Linked DNA regions of Homo sapiens: regions 2, 3, 4, 5, 6 and 7 are each reported to be linked to region 1. Evidence: microRNA targets listed by miRTarBase, many of them from high-throughput screens and not tested one by one. Region 1 holds a microRNA gene; each other region holds the end of a gene's coding sequence. Distances are from middle to middle.
The links. The annotated mature microRNA hsa-miR-4753-3p reads UUCUCUUUCUUUAGCCUUGUGU and lies in region 1 at 1,630-1,651, shown strand. An mRNA with a match to its seed (bases 2 to 7 or 8) in the 3' UTR can be bound and repressed. Matches are read on the target gene's strand: a 7mer-m8 pairs with bases 2 to 8, a 7mer-A1 pairs with bases 2 to 7 and ends in A, and an 8mer does both.

Region 1 (3,095 bases):
TAAGTCATACTCTGATTTCAGATTTAGCTTCTCTGAGAGTTTACAAAAGCCCCTCTAGAGAATTCAGTTGGACAGGTCATAAGCCAGTTCTGATAAACCTAGGGGTCCACTACAGTTAGAATATCTGACACATTTGGCTGGGCATAGTAGCTCACTCCTGTAATCCCAGCACTTTTGGAGGCCAAGGCGGGCAGATTACCTGAGGTCAGGAGTTTGAGACCAGCCTGGCCAACATGGTGAAACCCTGTCTCTACTAAAAAAAAAAATACAAAAACTTTGCCGGGTGTGGTGGTGGGTGCCTGTAATCCCAGCTACTTGGGAGGCTGAGGCAGGAGAATCGCTTGAACCCAGGAGGCAGAGGTTGCAGTGAGTCAAGATCACACCATTGCACTCTAGCCTGGGTAGCAACAGCGAAACTCCATCTTAAAAAAAATAAAATAAAAAGAATATGTGACACATTCGCAGTGGATGTTATGTGGGAGTGTGCTCAGTCGTAGTAGCAGACTACTCTATATATATTCTCATTCTAGGCTTATGGTGATTTACCCCTATTTTTCACAAGTAGGTCAGAATGTTTCTGCTGGATAAAATGATGTCATTAGCTGATCTAGGTAGTGGCACATAAGACATGGAAGGGAGAGCTGGAATTTCATTGACACATAGTTGAAACAAGATAAATACAGATTTTAAAATCCAGTCTGGGTCACTCAGGCATTCAAAGACTACAGAGAGGCGGTAGCAGGTAGCTTAATGATAATAGCCTGCAGTATGACTTTCTTTGGAAATAACACTGCTGTAGTCTGGACTGGTTTCCCTCTATATCTGTTGCACAGCTATTTTCCTAGGGAGATCCCATTCTAGGGATCTCCTTTAATGTAGTTCTTGGATTTCTTTGTTTTTGGCATCTCAGGTTCCTCCCCACCCCCATACTTTCATTTTGGTGGAGCACATTCTCTAGTAGCTTCTAAAGAACAAGTGCATGAGATGGAATTTTTAGAGATTGGCTGCATTTAAATATCTGTATTTATTTTTGCAAATATCTTTATTCTATTCATAGTTTGGCTGGATTGGAAGTTTTTCCTTCAGTATTTTATTGGCAGTGTTGAATTGTTTTTTTGCTTCCAGTATTGCTTTTGTGAAGTCCAGAGCTCTTCCAATTCCTGATTCTTTGTATGTGACTTGTTTTATTCTTTATTTTTTGCTTTTCTGTCTCTGGAATCTTTTTTTTTTCTTTTCTTTTTTTGAGATGGAATCTCACTCTGTTGGCCAAGCTGGAGTGCAGTGGCACAATTTTGGCTTACTGCAGCCTCTGCCTCCTGGGTTCAAGTGTTTCTCCTGCCTCAGCCTCCCGAGTAGGTGGGATTGCAGGGGCCTGCCACCACGCCTGGCTAGTTTTTCTATTTTTAGTAGAGATGGGGTTTTGCCATTTTGGCCAGGCTGGTCTCGAACTGCTGACCTCAAGTGATCCACTCACCTCAGCCTCCCAAAGTGCTGGGATTACTGGCATGAGCCACCATGCCCTGCTAGGAATCTTGAATCTTTGTTTTTCGTATCCAGAAATTTAACTCTGAAATATATCTACACAAGGCCAAAGGAAGAGAACAGATATATCCACAGTACACTTGGCTGTTCTCTTTCTTTAGCCTTGTGTAGATATATTTTCATCCCCTGTGATGCCTACTTGCTAGACTCTTTCATTCTAGCAACTTCTGTCTTTCTGTTCTAGGCAGTTTTTTTGAATGATTTTCTTGATGATTTCCTCTCCTGCATTTTACTGTTCTCTCCTTTTTAATTTTTGTTCATTGTTACTATTTTTGAGATGAGGTGTTACTATATTGCCCAGGCTGGTCTCAAACTTCTGAGCTCAAGCGATTTTCCTGTCTCAGCCTCCCAAAGTGCTAGGATTACAGGCATGAGCTACTGTCCCAGCCCTGCCAAATTTTTTTTTTTCTTTAATTGAGACTGTGTTTCACTATGTTCAGCCCAGGCTGTTCTCACACTTCTGGGCTCAAGCAGTCCTCCTGCCTCAGCCTCCCAAGTAGTTGGGTAGCTGGGGTATAGGTGCATGACACTGCACTTGGCTGTTATCTTTCTTTGGCCAGCCATTATTTGATATTATACCTTCTGTAATATACTCTAATATGCTCACCTTTTAATTTCTTGCTTTTTATTAATTTTTTTGTCTTTTTATTTCTTTGAAATTTTATCTGCTTTGTCTTTTAATCCTTTTGTTGACTTTTTGCTGTAATGTTTAAGTTTTCAATGATTTTTTTTTTTTTTTTTTTTTTTTTGAGACTGAGTCTCACTCTGTTGCCTAGGCTGGAGTGCAGTGGCATGATCTCGGCTCACTGCAATCTCTGCCCTCCAAGTTCAAGCGATTCTCCTGCCTCAGCCTCCCGAGTAGCTGGTATTACAGGCGCCTGCCACCGCACCCAGCTAATTTTTTGTATTTTTAGTAGAGATGGGGTTTCACCATCTTGGCCAGGCTGGTCTTGAACTCCTGACCTTGTGATCCACCTGCCTCAGCCTCCCACAGTGCTGGGATTATAGGCGTGAGCCACTGCGCCCAGCCTTTCAATGAATATTTTTAAATTAAACTAGTTTAATTTTTCAAGAGCTCTGTTTTCTGTGTGTTTTGTACCACTCTGTTCTTATAGATGGATGCAATACCTTACCTTTCGGATTTTGATCTTTCAAAGGATTTTATAATTTTTGGTTTTTTCAGTTACCTCTAATTTGCTTTTTTCTGTGTTGTTGTTTTGAGCTCTTCCCTATTAAGAATTTTTTTTCCTGGCTGTCTTATGATTATGAAGGAAAGACTAAACTGATTTGGAAATTGCAAGCATATGGTTGGCACTTGTTGACCTTGAGTTTCACTATCGGGTGATCTGGTTGGCCATGTCCTAGGGAATTCATAATATGAAGTCTTTAGGTCTTTTTCTCTTAGACTAGTTGGCTTCCAGAGAAAAGAGTTCCAATCTCTTGACTGGAGGGTGGTAAGAGAATGGTTTCCAGTGTTCTAGGATCTAGTTGAAGAACAGAGAGTGGGGTGGAGGATTCTTAGTGGTTAGATATGTTCATGAATCCCCCTAATT
Region 2 (3,080 bases), not on the chromosome of region 1:
TTTAAAAATAAAATAAAAATAGGGATATTATCTAAAAATTGTAGTTATTAAATTTTATTTAAGTAATGAACTAAAAACTGTTAAGAACTGATGTACTACACAATGACATTGATACTATGTTAAAATGATTCATAGAAGGCAGTCAAGACAGAGATTCAGAAACATTTTATTAGAAAAGTAATGCGCATTCATAGTAACATTAGCTTTTATTTCTGTGTACTGTAGGAACTTCCCAAAACCATTCTCCAAAGCTAACCATTTAAAACTCATTCATGTATTTTATTATGCATCCTACAACAAAGACTAAGAAGCAGGCAAGAATTACTATAAAACACAATCTAATTACAGAAAAGTTAATTTATTTTTACATGAAAACATTTTGAAACCAATTTTGTGTTTATTGAAGGATTTTTCTCATGCATATTATCCAAGATTTTTTTCTGTCAGAGTATTAGCTTCCTAGGATTGCTGTAACAAATTACCATGAACTGGGTACCTTAAAACAGCAGAAATACATTCTCACTGTTCTGGATGCTAGATGTGCAAAACCATGTTAGCAGGGTTGGCAACTACTGGAACTCTGAGGGAGAATCTATTCCATGCTTTTTTCCTATCTTCTGAGGGTTCCCACAATGTATCACTCCAATCTCTGCCTCCAGCTTCATGTGGCATTCTCCCCTGTGTCTCTATCTTCTCTTTCTTCCTTTTTTTTTTTTTTTTTGAGACAGAGTCTCGTTCTGTTGCTCACACTGGAGTGCAGTGGTGTGATCTCGCAACCTCCACCTCCCAGGTTCGAGTGATTCTTGTGCCTCAGACTCCTGGGTAGCTGACATTACAAGCACCACGCATGGCTAATTTTATTTTTAGTAGAGATGGGTTTTCGCCATGTTGGCCAGGCTGGTCTTGAACTCCTCAGCCTCAAGCGATTTGCCTGGCTTGGCCTCCCACAGTGCTGGGATTACAGGCGTGAGCCACCATGCCCGCCCTATCTTCTCTTATAAGGAACACCAGTCATATTGGATTAAGGGCCTGCCCTGCTCCAGTATGACCTCATCTTAGCTACTTACAACCACAACCACAGTATTTCCAAATAAGGTCACATACTGAGGCTCCAGGAAGTACATGAATTTTGGAGAGGACACCATTCAACCCAGTACATTCAGTTTCTATTTAACATAAAAAATAATTCCCATACTATACAGGGTGAAAAAATGACTTATGAAATAGGTGAAAGATTGTTGAATATACAAATGTGATCTTTTCTTTTCCAATCACATACAGAGATAAGAATTTTTTGGGAATATGTCTCATTCACAAATATGTATTATATGCAAAGAGAAATTTATACAATGTTCAAGTAGGATTCAGGGAATTAACCTAGGTGCATTCTCTTGTTTCTATTTCAACCATATTGTTCTCCAGATTTTTTTCCTAATTCTGATTTCCCTGTAGGATTGTTCAGATTTAAATAAAGCCTGTAAAGCAGAAGTAGTGAACAAGCCTGGGTACTAAAGTTAAATATTACAGAGGCAGATAAAATAAGTCTGAGGAAAATTCATGCATTTAATTCTATCTATTTTGCCCACATAGTTATGCTGATATTTCATTCACTTGGATTCACCAACCTAAAATTTGTAACTATAATGGAGAATCTTTTTTCTGTATTTGAAAAAAGTGCACTGAGCAAATTAATAGTATAAATATGATTTCAAGGATAACTAAGAGAATATTTATTTCTATGTATGGTTAATCAACATGCCCCCTTCCATACTCCATGTGCCCTTTGACTAATTATCTCCAACTCATCTTTCAGGTCACAATTTAAGTATAAATAATAAATTAGAAGTACATATTACTATAAAAAATTGACATGTGAATTATGAATCAATCTCCTCAATTTGTTAAAGAATCTTCTACCAAGTACTCTTTTCTTGAATAAACTTTTACCCATATTACAGTTACCATATCTTTGTAACAACATTAAGGGAGCATTGATTTTACTATATTAAATAGACAGTTTTCTATTTCAAATAGACTTGGCTGAATTATTTTGATTAGCTCAATTAAAAAATACAAGATTCTAATAAGAGACTTTATTACTTACTAAAGGCATTGTGAGCTATTATTAAAATAAATACAATTGACATGAAATATAAGTTTTGTGAAACAATTCTCTGTAAGGATTTTACATTTTTACTTTGCGATAGATGAACAAAATGGCCCATATCATACTGAAAAATCCCTTTAAAATAATAGACTATAATTTGAAAGATGAAATTTTATCAGTATAACACACATTTAAACTAATATTTTAAAATTTAAAATTTGTAAAAAGCCTACATTTGAGAAAGCTAATTATTCACAAGTAGGGACATTAAAATTCATTCCATAATCATCATTATTTGAGCCACAGAAAGACTGATGCAAATTGGAATATCTAAATTCAAAATTTAGGACATGCAGATATGATTACAACATCTTTCTCTTTGGTAGCTTGAGTTTACGTATTTAGATAAACACAACACAGTATTATTTTTTAAAAAATTTCCTGGCCAGAGGAAGGATTGCCTTCAAGAGTCCAATATGATGCAAAGATTAACATATTTTTCCAGTCTGGAGGTGCTGCTGCTCCCTGAGTGTAACTTTCTCTGTCATGTATTTCCTACAGTTTCTTTTTGAGAAAAAAGAAATGCTAAATGCTATCAATTTTCAGACTGTCCCACACTTAAACCTATACCAAGACATTCAGGGACATAACATGAGTAAAGATTAGAGAAATTGTGAGAAAAAAATTTGAAGAATAAGATGATGATAACTTATAATTTGATAGCTGCTCTAAGCTTGGCTGAGCGCCCTCTGGGGTTATCTTGTACATCCTGATCTTGTGGACTAAGTACCTTCTTGTGTATCAATTCCCACATTAAAGGAGCTCTTCTCATAGAGACTTCTTCCGTGTTTTCGTGATCTGAACCCAATTGAGATGTTTTCATCACTTGTTGTCTAACACTTAGGTTAAATCTTTCTGTCATGCTTATTCCAAGCAAAAATCTTTTGACGATGCGATCCTCTAGTGAATGGAA
Region 3 (3,000 bases), not on the chromosome of region 1:
GGAAACACATCGCAAGATCTTCCAAAGACATCATGTGTAACTCCTGCTTCAGAACAGCCGAAGAAAATAAAAGAAGACTATTTTGAAAAGCATCAGCAGGAACAGAAGCAGCAGCAACAACAGTCAGATCTGCCGGGCCACAGTTCATACCTACACGAAAGGCCAACAACAAGTTCGAGAGCAATTGAGAGTGATCTCAGTGATGACATCAGTGAAGGCACAGTACAGGCCGCTGTCGACACCATTTTAGAAATTATGAGAAAGAATTTGAAAATCAAAGGGGAAAAATAATGCCTTTAAAAATAATTTAGATAGTCATACTTTCCAACATTATCCTGTGTGATTATACTGTAGGATCCATTTTGGTCATCTGTCAAAGAGATGAGGAAATAAGGCTTTTAGACAGTTTGCAAACAAAATGACGAGAGAGATGTGGGACTAAATAATGATCGTTCAACTACTAGCCAAGGAGACATTCAGCAATTAATTAAATTTAAATTAGCTTTCAAAATGTTCCTTTGATTTTTGAGCCTGCAATATCTAATGTGTCTAAAATTGGGTCATTTTTCATGGATCTTTTTGTATACCAACGAATTAGCTCTTGCCATAGAACTTTTTCCATATAGTCTCTTCTATTGTAGATAATGTGGCTCATTTTGGTTGCTTTTATTTCTCATGAAACAATTTAACCTTTCAGGGAAGTGTCTCTTGTCTGTGTTGATCATAGTAACGGTTTTAGAAGGATAAACAGTTCTCCCTCCAACTATGTACTGTGCGCTTAAGTATATTCTTATGTTATTTCCTCTGATCACAATTTCTGCTACCTGGTCCTTAATTATTTTCCACAAGTCTTTCGAAATATGGTAATATTTTCTGAGGTTTTGTTTTTTACGCCCTCTGTGGTAAGATCATTATTTCATGACTCTGGTGCATTACTCTTTCTTTGTTTGGGGGTGGGGTGATGGGGGCAAAGACGCTCTGTCGCCCAGTCTGGACTGCAGTGGCCCAACCTCGGCTCACTGCAACATCTGCCTTCTGGGTTCAAGTGATTCTCGTGCCTCAGCCTCCCGACTAGCTGGGACTACAGGCATGTACAAGGACGCCCGGCTAAATTTTGTACTTTTAGTAGAGACAGGGTTTCACTATGTTGGCCAGGCTGGTCTCGAACTCCTGACCTAAAGTGATCTGCCCGCCTCGGCCTCCGAAAGTGTAGGGATTAAAGCGTGAGTCACTGGGCCAACCGCTGGTGCATTCTTATACTCTGAAATCAGCCCTGCACAAATATTTGAGAATGAGCGACTTTTTAAATGGGAAAAAAAAAAGGTAACATCAAGATTTCAGGATATATTATTGCTTATCTAGGTATCTAAAAAATCATATGGTCTGTAATATGTTTAAGGACCACATCATGTCTTACCTGGGTATCAAGAAATCCCATGTTTGCGCCTACTGTTAAATTCATCATCACCTATTGACTACAACCTGCAAAATCCCATGGTTAGGGACACCGTGATCACTTATTTAGAAATCCCCAAAATCTAATCATGTCTACTTGGTTAAAGCCCACATTATTTCTTTCCTCAATTCTTGCGAAATCCTATATTCATAAGAGCGGTTAAGATTGTCTTCATTATGTTGCTGGAATTTGCAAAAAAACCATGGTGACAACCATAATTAGACACACACCACCTGTTACCAAGATATGGGCACTACTCGTGGGCATTACCACGGCTTAGGCCAACATCATTCCCTACTGGGTATCTTCAAAAACTTATATTCACCAGAGCTTTAAGTGAGATACTTGTAAAATACCTTGGCACTTGGTTACAATTTGTGACACATCATCTCTCATGTGGATGCCTACAGAAGCCCAGGAGATCAACCAGATATAGAAATACCTACCAGACATGGAGACCTACAAATTAACCAAATTAAATGCCATTGCTAAGGACACATCATTTCTTTCCTGGGTGACTGAAAAACTGTTAAATACCTTGGGACTACCATTTCTAGTGACACATTATTACTTAACTGGTTATCTGCAAAATCCCGTGGTCACCACATGTTTAGACATTTTTAGAGACACCATCATATCTTCTCTGGCAGCTTGCAAAATCAGATGTGTAGAAGACACATGTGTAGAAGGACATGGGGTTTTCCACCAGCACTCCTACAAATAACCTTGATTTCCATCTTTTGGGGACACACCCACTCGACCTGGATACTTGCAGTAATCTCAGGTCGACCCTGATAGCAGAAAACCACCGTTTCTCGACTGTTCACCTGTAGACATCCTAGGGGCAGCACGGGGGCGGGGAATACAGTGATAAATACCTGACTCCCTGCAATCCCTCTACACTCACAGGTTTCAGCATACACTTTTGTTGAAACAGAAAATGGGAAAACCTGGCCAATCTGGGATTGGTAAGGACTCAATCATTTCTCAGCTGAGTACCTGTGAAAGAAATCACGGCGGGAAGACGTGTGGGGACATCTCATCAGTGAACCAGGTCCCTGGGACAGTCCCATGGTGCATGCTGTGGTTTATGCGTGCATCAGCAATACCTCAGCCAGACTCTCAAAAAAAGAAAAAAAACTATGAAAACACAGAAAAAAATGGTCATAAATCCAACAAATACATAAAGCCAGAGCTCTTAGCTGGACACTTATAAAATACTTTGGTTACGGTAGTGGCAGTTACTTACAATTTATGACATATCATCTCTCATGCGGATGCCTACAGAAGCCCATGAGATCTATCAGATTTAGAAAAACCTACCATACATGGAGACCTACAAATTACCCAGATTAAATGCCATTGCTAGGGACATACCATTTCTTTCCTGGGTAACTGCTGAATACCTTGGTACTACAATTTCTAGGAACACATTATTCCTTAATTGGATATCTGCAAAATCCCACGGTCACCACATTTTTAGAGACACAATCATCTCTTACCTGGTGATTTGCAAAATTCCTTGTTCAGTATCACGGTTAGGA
Region 4 (3,095 bases), not on the chromosome of region 1:
GCTGAGTACGACTCCTTTTCAGCGCTTGTATTTTGTTCTTTATGGAATAATCTAAGGAAAAATGTTAAGATCAGACCCAAACCTGGGTGTGTCCCTGATTGGGTCTGGGGTTGTCTGTGTGTGTCTGAGCCCTAATTCTCTCTTGTTTTCTGGGTAGCACACAGGAGCTGGGGACCAAGGAGGAGGGCAGGCCCTTATGTCACCTGGCAGCTGCCTGGAAGATTTCAGAGCAGCACCATTCCTTGAATGCCAGGGCCGGCAGGGAACTTGCCACTTTTTCGCAAATAAGTATAGCTTCTGGCTCACAACGGTGAAAGCAGACTTGCAGTTTTCCTCTGCTCCAGCACCAGACACCTTAAAAGAAAGCCAGGCCCAACGCCAGAAAATCAGCCGGTGCCAGGTCTGCGTGAAGTATAGCTAGAGAATGCGAAATTCACCAACACGTGGCCAAGAGAAACTTCCTAGGGGGCTAAGACTTCCTAGACTGTGCTAAGAGATGTCATGGTGCTCATTTTGGACTCCCTTTCAGTGGTTCCTTCTGTTTTGTCGTGGTTATTCCCAGAGTCCTCTGGTTCCTTACACATTAAGCAAATGCTGCACAGATGGATTTGTTTGGACCTCCCAATCTAGGGAGCCTAGATACTCTTATTTTACTGAGGATGATCGAAGAACTGGCTTTACTTAAAAATATGCTAATTCTCAGAAAGGCAAGTAGATGATAAAGGCCAGATTACAAATTACATTACTGAAAACTTCATTCTTGGGTTAACAGTATCTCAAACAATTGAAGTCAATTACTCTATAATACAGTGGGCTTCTGGATGGATTTTATAGGAAAAAATAAACAGGTCAATGAATGAAACTAGAAAGCAGAGATTTTCAACATTTCAAAATGATTTCCTCTGTAATCTATTTTTCCATATACTTTAAATAATGGTAAAACCATGACGCAAAGAGAGATTTTTTTTTAAAGAAGAAAAAAAAAAATTCACACTGCCAGCGTTAACAGTTCCTTTCAAAGGAGAATGAATCATGATGGCAGGAAGGCCCACAGTCGCCGTATTCCAGAGATGCGACATTAGCATAAACACATCACAGATGAATATAAAACATTATGTTCTCTTCTGCATTTTTCAGAGAATAGAAATGCCTACTTTGGCAACCCTTTTGAAAAGTAGCAATTATGGAAAAAAAATATTCAATAAGAGATTAGGAGCCTAAAAGCTATTAGTGAATATTAAGGTAGTTATTCACAAAAATTGACTCCCCATTGCAGTGAACTTCCAGACAGACTGCTTTTCCCCAGTCGGGGTCCGGCGTGTCACAGGTGCGTGCGTGCTAATGGGACTGACGCTACATGGGGCTCACTCAGGCAGGCACGCGCTTCATACAAAGCATCTCACTCCCCTCCCCAGGAGAGCCTGCACAGCTTCTTGCACTCACAACGGACACTTTGCTCCACACACATAATGGCAGCTCACACAGGGACGTGACAGAGCTATCATTATGCACTTGGGAGAAAATTAAGGGCCGATTTAATTAAACTTAGGTAAGAAGATTCATTTAAGTCAGGGTTACCCCATCAGGAGGACATGGCACTATCTTTAAACGAAACAAAGACAATTTATAATTTGAATTTTATGCTCCCGTGGTTGGCTGTTACAGGAGCATCCCATTTTGCCAATTTTAAAGACATTCTTATATTTCATATCAGTCTTGTACCAAGGCAACAGTTTGACATTTGGCATTAGTATTTTCTAAAAAAGTTTAGAATGTGTGTCAATTTATAATGATTATTTTTTTCTGTAAAGCAAAAGATCCCTTTTTCTGTTTTGCTAGGAATTTGGTGATCTAATCCTAAATTTAAAAGATTTGTTGGAAAAAATTTTTAGGAAACTCACCTTCCTCATCTAAAAGAAAAAGGCATTTTAGAGAAAACTAAAGAAATTTCTCATGAGCGTGACACTCATTTTAGTGCTTTGTTTCCGTGCACTTAAAAATAATTGAGAAGAAAAACTCAATTAAAATTTTGTTTATAAGAAATGTTTTCCTTGCCAAACCTTGATTTGTAATGAGCTCTTATATGCAGAACACATTTCAAATGAGTTTTGCTATGGGCTGCCCCCAGGGTGGCAATTTATTTTAAGAGTATTTTCTGGTAAAAAGAAAAATGTGTATTTTAAGATGAAATATTTTCTTGATGTAGCAGAATATTTCCTAGTTCATTTGACCCATTTGATATTTTTTAAACCATGCTCTGGCATGTTGAATATTTTTGTGCACCTAAAACTTAAGCCAATTTCAATCTTATTTGTGATTACCTTTCTCCTTCCCAAAAAGCTTTATCTATTACCAAAAGTCAACCCTCCTAAAAGTTCAACCTGTTCATCTTGAACTTGGCCTGAGAACATTTTCTGGGAAGAGGTAAGGGTGACAAATGGAACATCAGAAACGTATCTTGCTTGCTAATTATTTTAAACACTTTAATGTTGGTATTAGAATATTATCTTCATAAGTTAATAAATAAGTAAAAAAAAAAAACCCACACAAAGACAGGCTAAATTATGTAGACAGTTTACTCCACAGTGAGCTTGGGAAGGTATCAGACTGTTCAAAATGTTAGTATTACAAGAGCTGTCTCTAAATGCAGCATTAACACTGCCCTCTAATTTTACAAAAGTATTTTAAAGGATCAAAAGGGCGGAAAAATAACTTCTTGGAATAGAAGATCCTGTTACCTTAAACCATTATTTTCTTCACCTGGTTATATATCAATGTGCCTTCAATTACCCTTTCTCTGTGGAGGTGATGAACAAAGCTTTTAAGTTGTTCTCCTAACCCATTATTGGAGATGATCCTTATCAAACCCTTCTCTCCCTGCCTCCCCACCAACCTTGTAGACTGGAACGTGCCTAGATTGCCCTAATGGGAACTGTTCTGTTCTGTGCCCGTGCTGGAAATCTGGGATGCTTCCTTCTGGGTTCTGATTCTCAGTGAGTGGAGCCCATTCATCCAGGCAGGTTTCCATGCTATGAGTGGCCCTTTCGTTCTGCTCTCACACTCCCCACATTGAAAGCTGAGTCATCGCTGCTTTG
Region 5 (3,095 bases), not on the chromosome of region 1:
TTAGTAACCTGTGTGTCTGCCCCTCCACAGAACTGTCAGACCTTCAGCAGCCTCAGCTGCCTGAGCGCAGGGACAGAGGACTGCGGTCCCCAGAGCCCCTTCGCCCGCCACGTCAGCAACACCAGGGCCTGGACCGCCCTGCTCTCAGCCTCCGGCCCAGGGGGCAGGACCCCCGCTGGGACCCCGGTCCCTGAGCCTCTTCCCCCTTCCTTCGACGACCACCTCGCCTGCCAGGAGGACCTGTCCTGTGAGGAGTCAGACAGCTGCGCCCTGGACGAGGATTGTGGCAGGAGAGCGGAGCCGGCTGCAGCCTGGCGGGACCGCGGGGCCCCTGGGAACAGCCTCTGCTCCCTGGACGGCGAGTTGGACATTGAGCAGATAGAGAAGAACTGAGGGGGTGTGGGCCCAGGCAGGGCTGGGGTGTGCTGGCATCGACAGCCCCCACTCTGGGCACTAGGTGGGCCCTTGAAGGGGAGCCCAACTCGTGGGCCTGATGAAAGCTTCCTGAGTGGTGTCGGGTCCCAGAGAGGGAGCCCACCTGCTGCCTGGGGGAGAGCCTGGCCTGGCCGCGTCATACAGCGGGTGTGTCAGCCTCTCACCGGCTCCCCGAGCGTGGCAGCCACCAGGTCCACAGAACTACTGCAGCCCAGAGGACAGCTTTGAAGTTTGCGTCTTTTCTGCCTCTTTCCCTGTGGGATGTTGGGCAGTCTCTGTTGTCCCCGGCAGAGCTGGGCACCGCTCTGTATCCCCCTGGTGGTGGGGGCTGTCAGGGAGGGCCTGGGGTGGGGGCCAGGGGCCATCTGCTATGTCAGGGCCCTTCTTGGCCTCACTCAGGTTCACTTCTGGGGAGTCGGCCCCGCAGCTTCTTTCACTCAGTTTTACTCCGTGCCTTCTCTCCCAGGTCTCCCTGCTTCAGGCTTGGGAAGGTTCGGGAGATGCTTCCTTCTGTAACACCAGAACCATTTGGCCTTAATTCCAATGTGAGAGACAGAATCCCTGGGGTGCTGGACTGGCCCTCCAGAGGGTAAGCCATGTCCGGAGTCTCGGGCCCAAGGAACGATTTGGAGGGTGCTTGTTAGGGCCTCCCGTGTTGGGTAGAAATTTGGTGGATCTGTTGGCTGAAAAGACGGACTTGCTTGCCTCTCCTACAGCATGGAGAGGCTGACCCCATGGCTCTGCCACCGTTGGGGCAGGGTTAGCAGATGGCAGCCCTTCTCTGTGGCTGACAGGTCACTGAGTGATAAGCATGGTTGGTTCCGGTGAGTGTAGGGATGGCACGATACCAGGGCAGCCTCTTGAAAACGGCCTCGGGAGACGGGAGCTGCGAGCAGGTGGGCAGATGAGGGCCCTATGCGCACTCAGGGGTGAAGGGCGTCCGCTGGCCACTCTGCAGGGGCCCCTGCAGGATTCCAGGCACCTCCCGTTTGTCCTTGAGGACTGCTGGCTGTAACCAGGGCACATCACCCACCTCAAGACAAGCCCACGCCCTTGTCAGCTTAGGGGGAGCCCAGTCCTGAGGGCTGCATCTCTGTTGTAGGCCCAGCCACCGGCACAAAGCTGGATTCATGCTCCCTGCCCCTACCCCACCCTGGCTCCTCACCCTGGGGCATCCGAGGAGCCTAGCCCCCTGAGGGTTTGCTCTCCTCTCAAGGTTTGTAGCTCCTCTCCGGCTGCCTTGCAGACACCACCACATGGGCTCTGCTCTATGGGAATCTGGCTTTTAGCGAATGTGGCGTCTTCTGCAAACAATAGCAATTGGGCTGGCTTAGGAGCAAGTGGCTCATTTTCCCATAAGGCTAAAAATAACTGGTGCGCTCCCTTGTGTTGGCTGACACGCGCGTTCAAAGCACTTTTGTAGTCACTTTGCTTTTGCTCGTCTTCATGGACGAGTGAACGCCTCGCTTCTGCAGGTTGAGTCCAGATGCTTCTCACCTTCTTTCTCCTCAAGAAAGATGCTTTTTGGGAAACGTTGTTTAAATCTTATTTTTTTACTACATCAAAAGGATGGTGGTTCAAGTTCCCAATATGTGGGTGGCACTTCTTAAAAATCAGCTTTAAGGAGCTGGCAGAAAGCCCCCAGCCCCACAGCCCTGAGAGATGGTGTTGCTAGCTCAGGTGGCTGACACATGGGGTATGCCGGGCACTGGGCAGGTCCCAGAGCCGGGGAACCAGCTCACCTCTGGTTGCTGTAGCTCCTGCCGGAGGCATGTCTACTTGTGATCCCGGACAGCCGAACCCAAGAGCTGGTGGCTCTGAGCAGACAGAGACATCTTGGCCTGTCCCTGCCTGGGGGTCATGGAGACCATGTCTTCTTAGAGCAAATGTGGAGGCGGCCAGGGCAGTTGTTGGGTGAATGTGGAGAGCACATGGCCATGTCTTGCCCCCGGAGTACCACTGGGCGTGGGGGGTCCTGGCACCACATGCCCGGTGTGGCCGAGGGCACACAGCCTCTATAGCAGGCCTTCCTGTGGAAGGCAGAGGCAGTGAGGGAGGTGGACGGTGCCAGCTGAGGCTGAGGCATGCAGCAGCCCCCAGCTACCTTTGCTTAGGGCTGGGGTGGGAGGCACATGGTGACAGGTATATGTCGTGGGACTGGGGTGTGGGTGACCTGCCCTCAAACCTTGCCTGCCACCTCCCCATTCAGGCCTGGTGGCAGGAAGGGACAAGCTGTGGAGCTGGCTGAGTCACAGCCACCTCCCCACCTCCCCGCAAGCTGGTCCCATCGACCAGCAAGCCCAGCCCCAGGGCGCTTAGGGAGAAATGACCCAGCCTCCTCAGACCCCGCCTGCCTGTCCTGTGCCCACCACGCAGCAGTCAGGGGAGAAAATGGTGGCTATCCCTTCTGCTTAGAGAAAGAAATGGCCTTTAGCTGGTTTCATGTTTGTGTTTTGACTGGAGGGAGTAGACCCTATCTATAAGGTGCCACCCCATCATCCAAGCTGCCACACTGCCCGGAGCAGCCTGTTCCTGCACTCCACCCTGCTGGCCCCAGGACTTCTGATCTCAGTCCTCTGGGAGGGAGGTTCGCCTAGGAGGTGCCCCCCACATTGGTGTCCCCATGGGCAGCAGGCAGACAGCTCACCCCCACCAGCATG
Region 6 (3,093 bases), not on the chromosome of region 1:
TCAACTTCAGCGGCTTTGGCTACAGCCTGCCGCAGCAGCAGCCGGCCGCCGTGGCGCGCCGCAACGAGCGCGAGCGCAACCGCGTCAAGTTGGTCAACCTGGGCTTTGCCACCCTTCGGGAGCACGTCCCCAACGGCGCGGCCAACAAGAAGATGAGTAAGGTGGAGACACTGCGCTCGGCGGTCGAGTACATCCGCGCGCTGCAGCAGCTGCTGGACGAGCATGACGCGGTGAGCGCCGCCTTCCAGGCAGGCGTCCTGTCGCCCACCATCTCCCCCAACTACTCCAACGACTTGAACTCCATGGCCGGCTCGCCGGTCTCATCCTACTCGTCGGACGAGGGCTCTTACGACCCGCTCAGCCCCGAGGAGCAGGAGCTTCTCGACTTCACCAACTGGTTCTGAGGGGCTCGGCCTGGTCAGGCCCTGGTGCGAATGGACTTTGGAAGCAGGTAGGTTGCATTTTGGGGTGGGCAGGGGGGTATTCTTGCCTTCGTCCTCCCTCTGAGTGTCTGTGGAAGTGGGGATGTCTCCAAGGAGATAAGGGGATTTTTATTTAAAGAATTTGTGAAAGTTGGTCGATTTCAAGTCCTAGTTTGTTAGTTTCAGCACTGGCCTCTGAAAATGGCCTTGCCCAGGTCTCCAAGGAGTGAAGGGTAGTAGTGAGGTGCAGAGATACTGGTGAACCGAATACTGGGACATGTTAAAAGAGATGTCTACCTGACAGACTCTTTCCCCAGACCTCCATCTCCCTCTACCACTAGCCTACACGTTCAAATTAACCTCTCCTGTTCTTTTCCTTATGTTATAGGGTGATCGCACAACCTGCATCTTTAGTGCTTTCTTGTCAGTGGCGTTGGGAGGGGGAGAAAAGGAAAAGAAAAAAAAAAGAAGAAGAAGAAGAAAAGAGAAGAAGAAAAAAACGAAAACAGTCAACCAACCCCATCGCCAACTAAGCGAGGCATGCCTGAGAGACATGGCTTTCAGAAAACGGGAAGCGCTCAGAACAGTATCTTTGCACTCCAATCATTCACGGAGATATGAAGAGCAACTGGGACCTGAGTCAATGCGCAAAATGCAGCTTGTGTGCAAAAGCAGTGGGCTCCTGGCAGAAGGGAGCAGCACACGCGTTATAGTAACTCCCATCACCTCTAACACGCACAGCTGAAAGTTCTTGCTCGGGTCCCTTCACCTCCTCGCCCTTTCTTAAAGTGCAGTTCTTAGCCCTCTAGAAACGAGTTGGTGTCTTTCGTCTCAGTAGCCCCCACCCCAATAAGCTGTAGACATTGGTTTACAGTGAAACTATGCTATTCTCAGCCCTTTGAAACTCTGCTTCTCCTCCAGGGCCCGATTCCCAAACCCCATGGCTTCCCTCACACTGTCTTTTCTACCATTTTCATTATAGAATGCTTCCAATCTTTTGTGAATTTTTTATTATAAAAAATCTATTTGTATCTATCCTAACCAGTTCGGGGATATATTAAGATATTTTTGTACATAAGAGAGAAAGAGAGAGAAAAATTTATAGAAGTTTTGTACAAATGGTTTAAAATGTGTATATCTTGATACTTTAACATGTAATGCTATTACCTCTGCATATTTTAGATGTGTAGTTCACCTTACAACTGCAATTTTCCCTATGTGGTTTTGTAAAGAACTCTCCTCATAGGTGAGATCAAGAGGCCACCAGTTGTACTTCAGCACCAATGTGTCTTACTTTATAGAAATGTTGTTAATGTATTAATGATGTTATTAAATACTGTTCAAGAAGAACAAAGTTTATGCAGCTACTGTCCAAACTCAAAGTGGCAGCCAGTTGGTTTTGATAGGTTGCCTTTTGGAGATTTCTATTACTGCCTTTTTTTTTCTTACTGTTTTATTACAAACTTACAAAAATATGTATAACCCTGTTTTATACAAACTAGTTTCGTAATAAAACTTTTTCCTTTTTTTAAAATGAAAATAATCAGCTGACTCTAAGCTTTCTTTGACTCTGATGCCCCTGGTCCAGTTTTATGAAAATGTCAAAGGGAAGAGGTGGATGGAGAAGAAAATGTTGCAAAACATGCTAAGTGGCAGAAATGACAATGATAAGTGCTATGGCCAGTCCCATCCAAATGGTTTCTTTATGATGAATGAGTGTGTGTTTGTGTGTGTGTGTGTGTGTGTGTGTATGTACATGTATATATGTTTTCTTTCTATCCTATGCTGCAAATGTACATGCCCACCAAAAAGAATAGATGGCTGCATTATCCTTTGATCAAAATTTAAAATCCCCCAAAAAAGTGAACCAGAAAGAGAGGGTCCTCCACCATTTTCCAATTCTCAACTCCATTCTGAGTTTCTCCCTGTGAAACTATGGTGGGGCTGGATGAAATAATGGAGACTAGGTCTGGGTGGGGAGGATGGTGGTTCTGGGATGGGGGTTGGAGAGGCATCCCTCTCCACATACAAGCTCCTAGTGGTGAGTATGTTTCTCTTCCCTCACTTCCAGGCATACATTTTCTACTCATTTTCTCCAATACACCTACTTGCTATATTGATTTTAAGTAAGAGGCATATATGATATGAATTCATTCCAAACGGATTGAGATTTTAATTAAAAAAACGCATTAGAAATGTGTGGTCGCTTTGAGACACTGGTCTATCTAAGCTTGTGACTCTATCCGAATAGCGTGAGCTGCGTGTAAAAGTACCCAATTACCAAGATTCAAAAAGAAATTGGTGGGTTTTTGGCTGGCTTGCTTCTTGTCAGTTAGCAAGGACGTGATTAGAATCCTACTCGGCCTCTCGCCGGCTCCTCGCTCGCCGCCTGCATTACTTGCAGATTCAGTTTGCGTGTCTCCAGCCAAGCGGAAAGCCGAGCGCAAAATGCATCTTACAAAACCCAACAAAGAACGGGTAGCCAGCACGTCTTCCAGAGTTAAAAATCTAGTCTGTGTTGGTACATCTATACCATTTAGTGGCACAGAATAATCATTTTTTAAAGCCACGATGCGCGGAGCACGCCACAGCGTCTGATGTCATTTTGCTAAATGACCCTCTATAGAATGCACATTGAGGCTTCAGTCCCTTTCAAAGAGATGAGCGTAAT
Region 7 (3,095 bases), 140 Mb from region 1:
TAAAACTTAGCCCTCAAGTTGAATACGAAGCTCAGTCTACTCCACCCAAACTGTTGTTGGGTAGAATATACATGATGGGGAAGAAATTGAATGAATATTGACAAGACACACAGTGTCTACAACAGCTAGTAAAATACTTTACATGTTTTTTTGTTGTTTTGTTTTTTGGGTTTTTTTTGAGATGGTGTCTTGCTCTGTCACCCAGGCTGGAGTGCAATGGTGCAATCTTGGCTCACTGCAATCTCTGCCTCCCGAGTTCAAGCAATTCTTCTGCCTCATCCTTCCGAGTAGCTGGGACTACAGGTGCATGCCACCATGCCTGGCAAACTTTTTGGGTTTTTTTGTATTTTTAGTAGAGATGGGGGTTTCACCATGCTGGCCAGGTTGGTCTCAAACTCCTGACCTCATGATCTGCCTGCCTTGGCCTCCCAATACATGTTTTACTCAAAGTATCCTTTTTTGCTTCACAGATATATTCCATGAAGACAAAATAGAAGATGAACTTCTATTCACCGTTTCTGGAATTCTAGCCGCCATGATGGTCTGGTGGTGACTGATAACTAGTTTTATTCCAAGACATACCTTTACCTCTTTAAGTTTCAATCTCCCATCTCCCAGTCCTTCAGTCCCCAACTGCAGAGGATGACCTCCCCAGATAGAGGAGAATCATTACTCCAACAAGAATAACCAAGTCTTTGTATCCCTAGTACAAGACATAGTATTTTTATTCGAAAATGAATGTTTAAGTATTAAATTGAAACTTGAATGAATATTCAAGAAAATATAATGATCTCTACTTTTTCTGGATGATTTCCAGCCATCATATCAGTTTGCCAAAAAAATTGAGAAAGTTATGATTTTGACCTCCCAACCTAAACTCTAAATTCTAAAGATCAGTAAACAATTAGGTCAATAAATACATACAATTTAAGATGAAGCCCTTTGGAAGTCTAGTCCAAAACAGGAAAATCTCAGAACTTTCTGGACTCAAGGAAATGCTTTAAATGGAATCTGTAGTTTGTTTGCAGGAGAGACAATTTCTAGAATTTAGATTGCTTTTCAAAATGTTTATCAGGTAGGCAAGTTAGCAGTTGAGGCGGAACACAGACAACTTGGGGAGCTTTACTGGAAGGCCAAGAAAATACTCTTGGACACTGGAGGAAATGACAGCTACTAAAGCCCAATCATGGAAAAGGACCAGAAAGCAGCCCACTGGAATGGGGAGCTTAGTGGGCAAGGAGGTAGGGATATAATTTCTCTTCTTGGCTCCACCAGTAATTAGCTCTGTGGCCCAGTCACCTAAACTTTCTGGACTTCAGTTCAGGTTGTATGGCAGTAGGCCATAGAATTGGCTACTGCCATACAATCTCTATGGGAAAGGACTGCAAAAACTAAATTTTATCTCTGTATGGGCAAAGGCTACTGTCATCCTGTTGTTGGTCTGGGGCCACTCTGACAATTTTTTTTAACCTCATTTGATTGTGTAAGGGTCTAACCACAACAAAAAATCATAGTGTAATAGAATTAATCAAGTTCAGCAAGGTCACAGGCTAGATCAATATACAGAAAATCAATTGTATTTTTCTGTTCAGAAAACTCCAAAAATGAAATAAAGAAAATTGTGTTCACAATATCACCAAAGAGAATTAAATACTTAGGAATAAATTTAACAAAATAAGTATAAGACTTGTATAACGAAAACTATAAAACATTCAAGAGGGCTGGGCATGGTGGCTCATGCCTTTAGTTCTAGCACTTTGGAGGCAGAGGCAGGAGGACTGCTTGAGCCCAGGAGTTCAAGACCAGCCTGGGCAACAAAGTGAGACCCTGTCTCCACAAAAAATAAAAATAAAAATAAATTGAAGATGGCCGAATAGGAACAGCTCCAGTCTACAGCTCCCAGCAGGATGGACACAGAAGATGGGTGATTTCTGCATTTTCAACTAAAGTACCTGGTTCGTCTCACTGGGACTGGCTGGACAGTGGGTGTAGCCCACAGAGGGTTAGCCGAAGCAAGGTGGGGCATCGCCTCACCTGGGAAGCGCCAAGGGGTCGGGGGATTTCCCTTTCCTAGCCAAGGGAAGCCGTGAGTGACTATACCTGGAGGAGGGGTACACTCCTGCCCAAATACTGCTCTTTTCCCACAGTCTTCGCAACTGGCAGACCACGAAATCCCCTCCCATGCCTGGTTCAGTGGGTCCCACGCCCACAGAGCCTTGCTCACTGCTAGCGCCAGCAGTCTGAAATCGACCTGGGACGTGGGAGCTTGGCGGGGTAGAGGTGTCCGCCATTGCTGAGGCTTGAGTAGGCGGTTCTATGCTCACAGTGTAAACAAAGCAGCAGGGAAGCTCAAACTGGGCAGAGCCCACCACAGCTCAGCAAGGCCTACTGTCTCTGTAGATTCCACCTCCAGGGGCAGGGCATATCTGAACAAAAGGCAGCAGACAGCTTCTCCAGACTTAAACGTCCCTGCCTGACAGCTCTGAAGAGAGCAGTGGTTCTCCCAGCACCGCGTTCAAGCTCCGATAATAGACAGACTGCCTCCTCAAGTGGGTCCCTGACCCCCGTGTAGCCTGACTGGGAGACATCTCCCAGTAGGCGCCGAAAGACACCTCAGAGAGGTAGATGCCCCACTGGAACGAAGCTTCCACAGTAAGGATCAGGCAGCAATATTTGCTGTTCTGCAGCCTCCACTGGTGACACCCAGGCAAACAGGGTCTGGAGTGGACCTCCAGCAAACTCCAACAGACCTGCAGCTAAGGGGCCTGTCTATTAGAAGGAAAACTAACAGAAAGGAATAGCATCAACATCAAAAAAAGGACATCTACACCAAAACCCCATCCATAGGACACCAACATCAGAGACCAAAGGTAGGTAAAACCACAAAGATGGGGAGAAACCAGACCAGAAAGGCTGAAAATTCCAAAAACCAGAATGCCTCTTCTCCTCCAAAGGAACACAACTCCTTGCCAGCAAGGGAACAAAACTGGACAGAGAATGAGTTTGACAAGTTGACAGAAGTAGGCTTCAGAAGGTCGGTAATAACAAACTTCTCCAAGCTAAAGGAGCATGTTCTAATGCGTCGCAAGGAAGCT

Region 2: the mRNA of METTL15 is a reported target of hsa-miR-4753-3p. Seed matches in the 3' UTR shown: 8mer at 2,481-2,488, 7mer-A1 at 1,387-1,393, 7mer-A1 at 991-997 and 8mer at 692-699.
Region 3: the mRNA of ATXN3L is a reported target of hsa-miR-4753-3p. Seed matches in the 3' UTR shown: 7mer-m8 at 376-382.
Region 4: the mRNA of COL4A4 is a reported target of hsa-miR-4753-3p. Seed matches in the 3' UTR shown: 7mer-A1 at 450-456 and 7mer-m8 at 952-958.
Region 5: miRTarBase lists FAM53B as a target of hsa-miR-4753-3p. The part of its 3' UTR that is shown has no 7-base or 8-base seed match.
Region 6: the mRNA of ASCL1 is a reported target of hsa-miR-4753-3p. Seed matches in the 3' UTR shown: 8mer at 904-911 and 7mer-m8 at 1,506-1,512.
Region 7: miRTarBase lists RPAP2 as a target of hsa-miR-4753-3p. Seed matches in the 3' UTR shown: 8mer at 1,639-1,646.

The regions. Positions count from the first base shown.
Region 1 is chr1:235,188,596-235,191,690 of GRCh38, reverse strand. MIR4753 (microRNA 4753) reads left to right here and starts at 1,575; the gene lies at 1,575-1,657. The region is part of intron 19 of ARID4B (AT-rich interaction domain 4B); the gene reads left to right.
Region 2 is chr11:28,330,578-28,333,657 of GRCh38, reverse strand. METTL15 (methyltransferase 15, mitochondrial 12S rRNA N4-cytidine) reads right to left here. Exons shown (of 7, transcript NM_001113528.2): 7 at 151-3,080. The coding sequence ends at 2,817. Among named protein-coding and RNA genes, the nearest start is that of MIR8068, 150 kb to the left of the region's middle.
Region 3 is chrX:13,316,158-13,319,157 of GRCh38, reverse strand. It overlaps ATXN3L (ataxin 3 like), which reads left to right. Exons shown (of 1, transcript NM_001135995.2): 1 at 1-511. The coding sequence ends at 291. GS1-600G8.3 (unknown transcript) reads right to left here. Exons shown (of 17, transcript NR_046087.1): 14 at 2,456-2,596; 15 at 322-370; 16 at 1-150. Among named protein-coding and RNA genes, the nearest start is that of ATXN3L, 2.4 kb to the left of the region's middle.
Region 4 is chr2:227,004,651-227,007,745 of GRCh38, reverse strand. COL4A4 (collagen type IV alpha 4 chain) reads left to right here. Exons shown (of 48, transcript NM_000092.5): 48 at 158-3,095. The coding sequence ends at 421. Among named protein-coding and RNA genes, the nearest start is that of COL4A4, 160 kb to the left of the region's middle.
Region 5 is chr10:124,620,540-124,623,634 of GRCh38, reverse strand. FAM53B (family with sequence similarity 53 member B) reads left to right here. Exons shown (of 5, transcript NM_014661.4): 5 at 31-3,095. The coding sequence ends at 393. Among named protein-coding and RNA genes, the nearest start is that of FAM53B-AS1, 82 kb to the left of the region's middle. RefSeq lists an enhancer at 1,444-1,944.
Region 6 is chr12:102,958,552-102,961,644 of GRCh38, forward strand. ASCL1 (achaete-scute family bHLH transcription factor 1) reads left to right here. Exons shown (of 2, transcript NM_004316.4): 1 at 1-451; 2 at 811-1,962. The coding sequence ends at 404. Among named protein-coding and RNA genes, the nearest start is that of ASCL1, 2.4 kb to the left of the region's middle. RefSeq lists enhancers at 1-121, 122-653, 1,999-3,093.
Region 7 is chr1:92,386,541-92,389,635 of GRCh38, forward strand. It overlaps RPAP2 (RNA polymerase II associated protein 2), which reads left to right. Exons shown (of 13, transcript NM_024813.3): 13 at 471-3,095. The coding sequence ends at 471. Among named protein-coding and RNA genes, the nearest start is that of RPAP2, 89 kb to the left of the region's middle.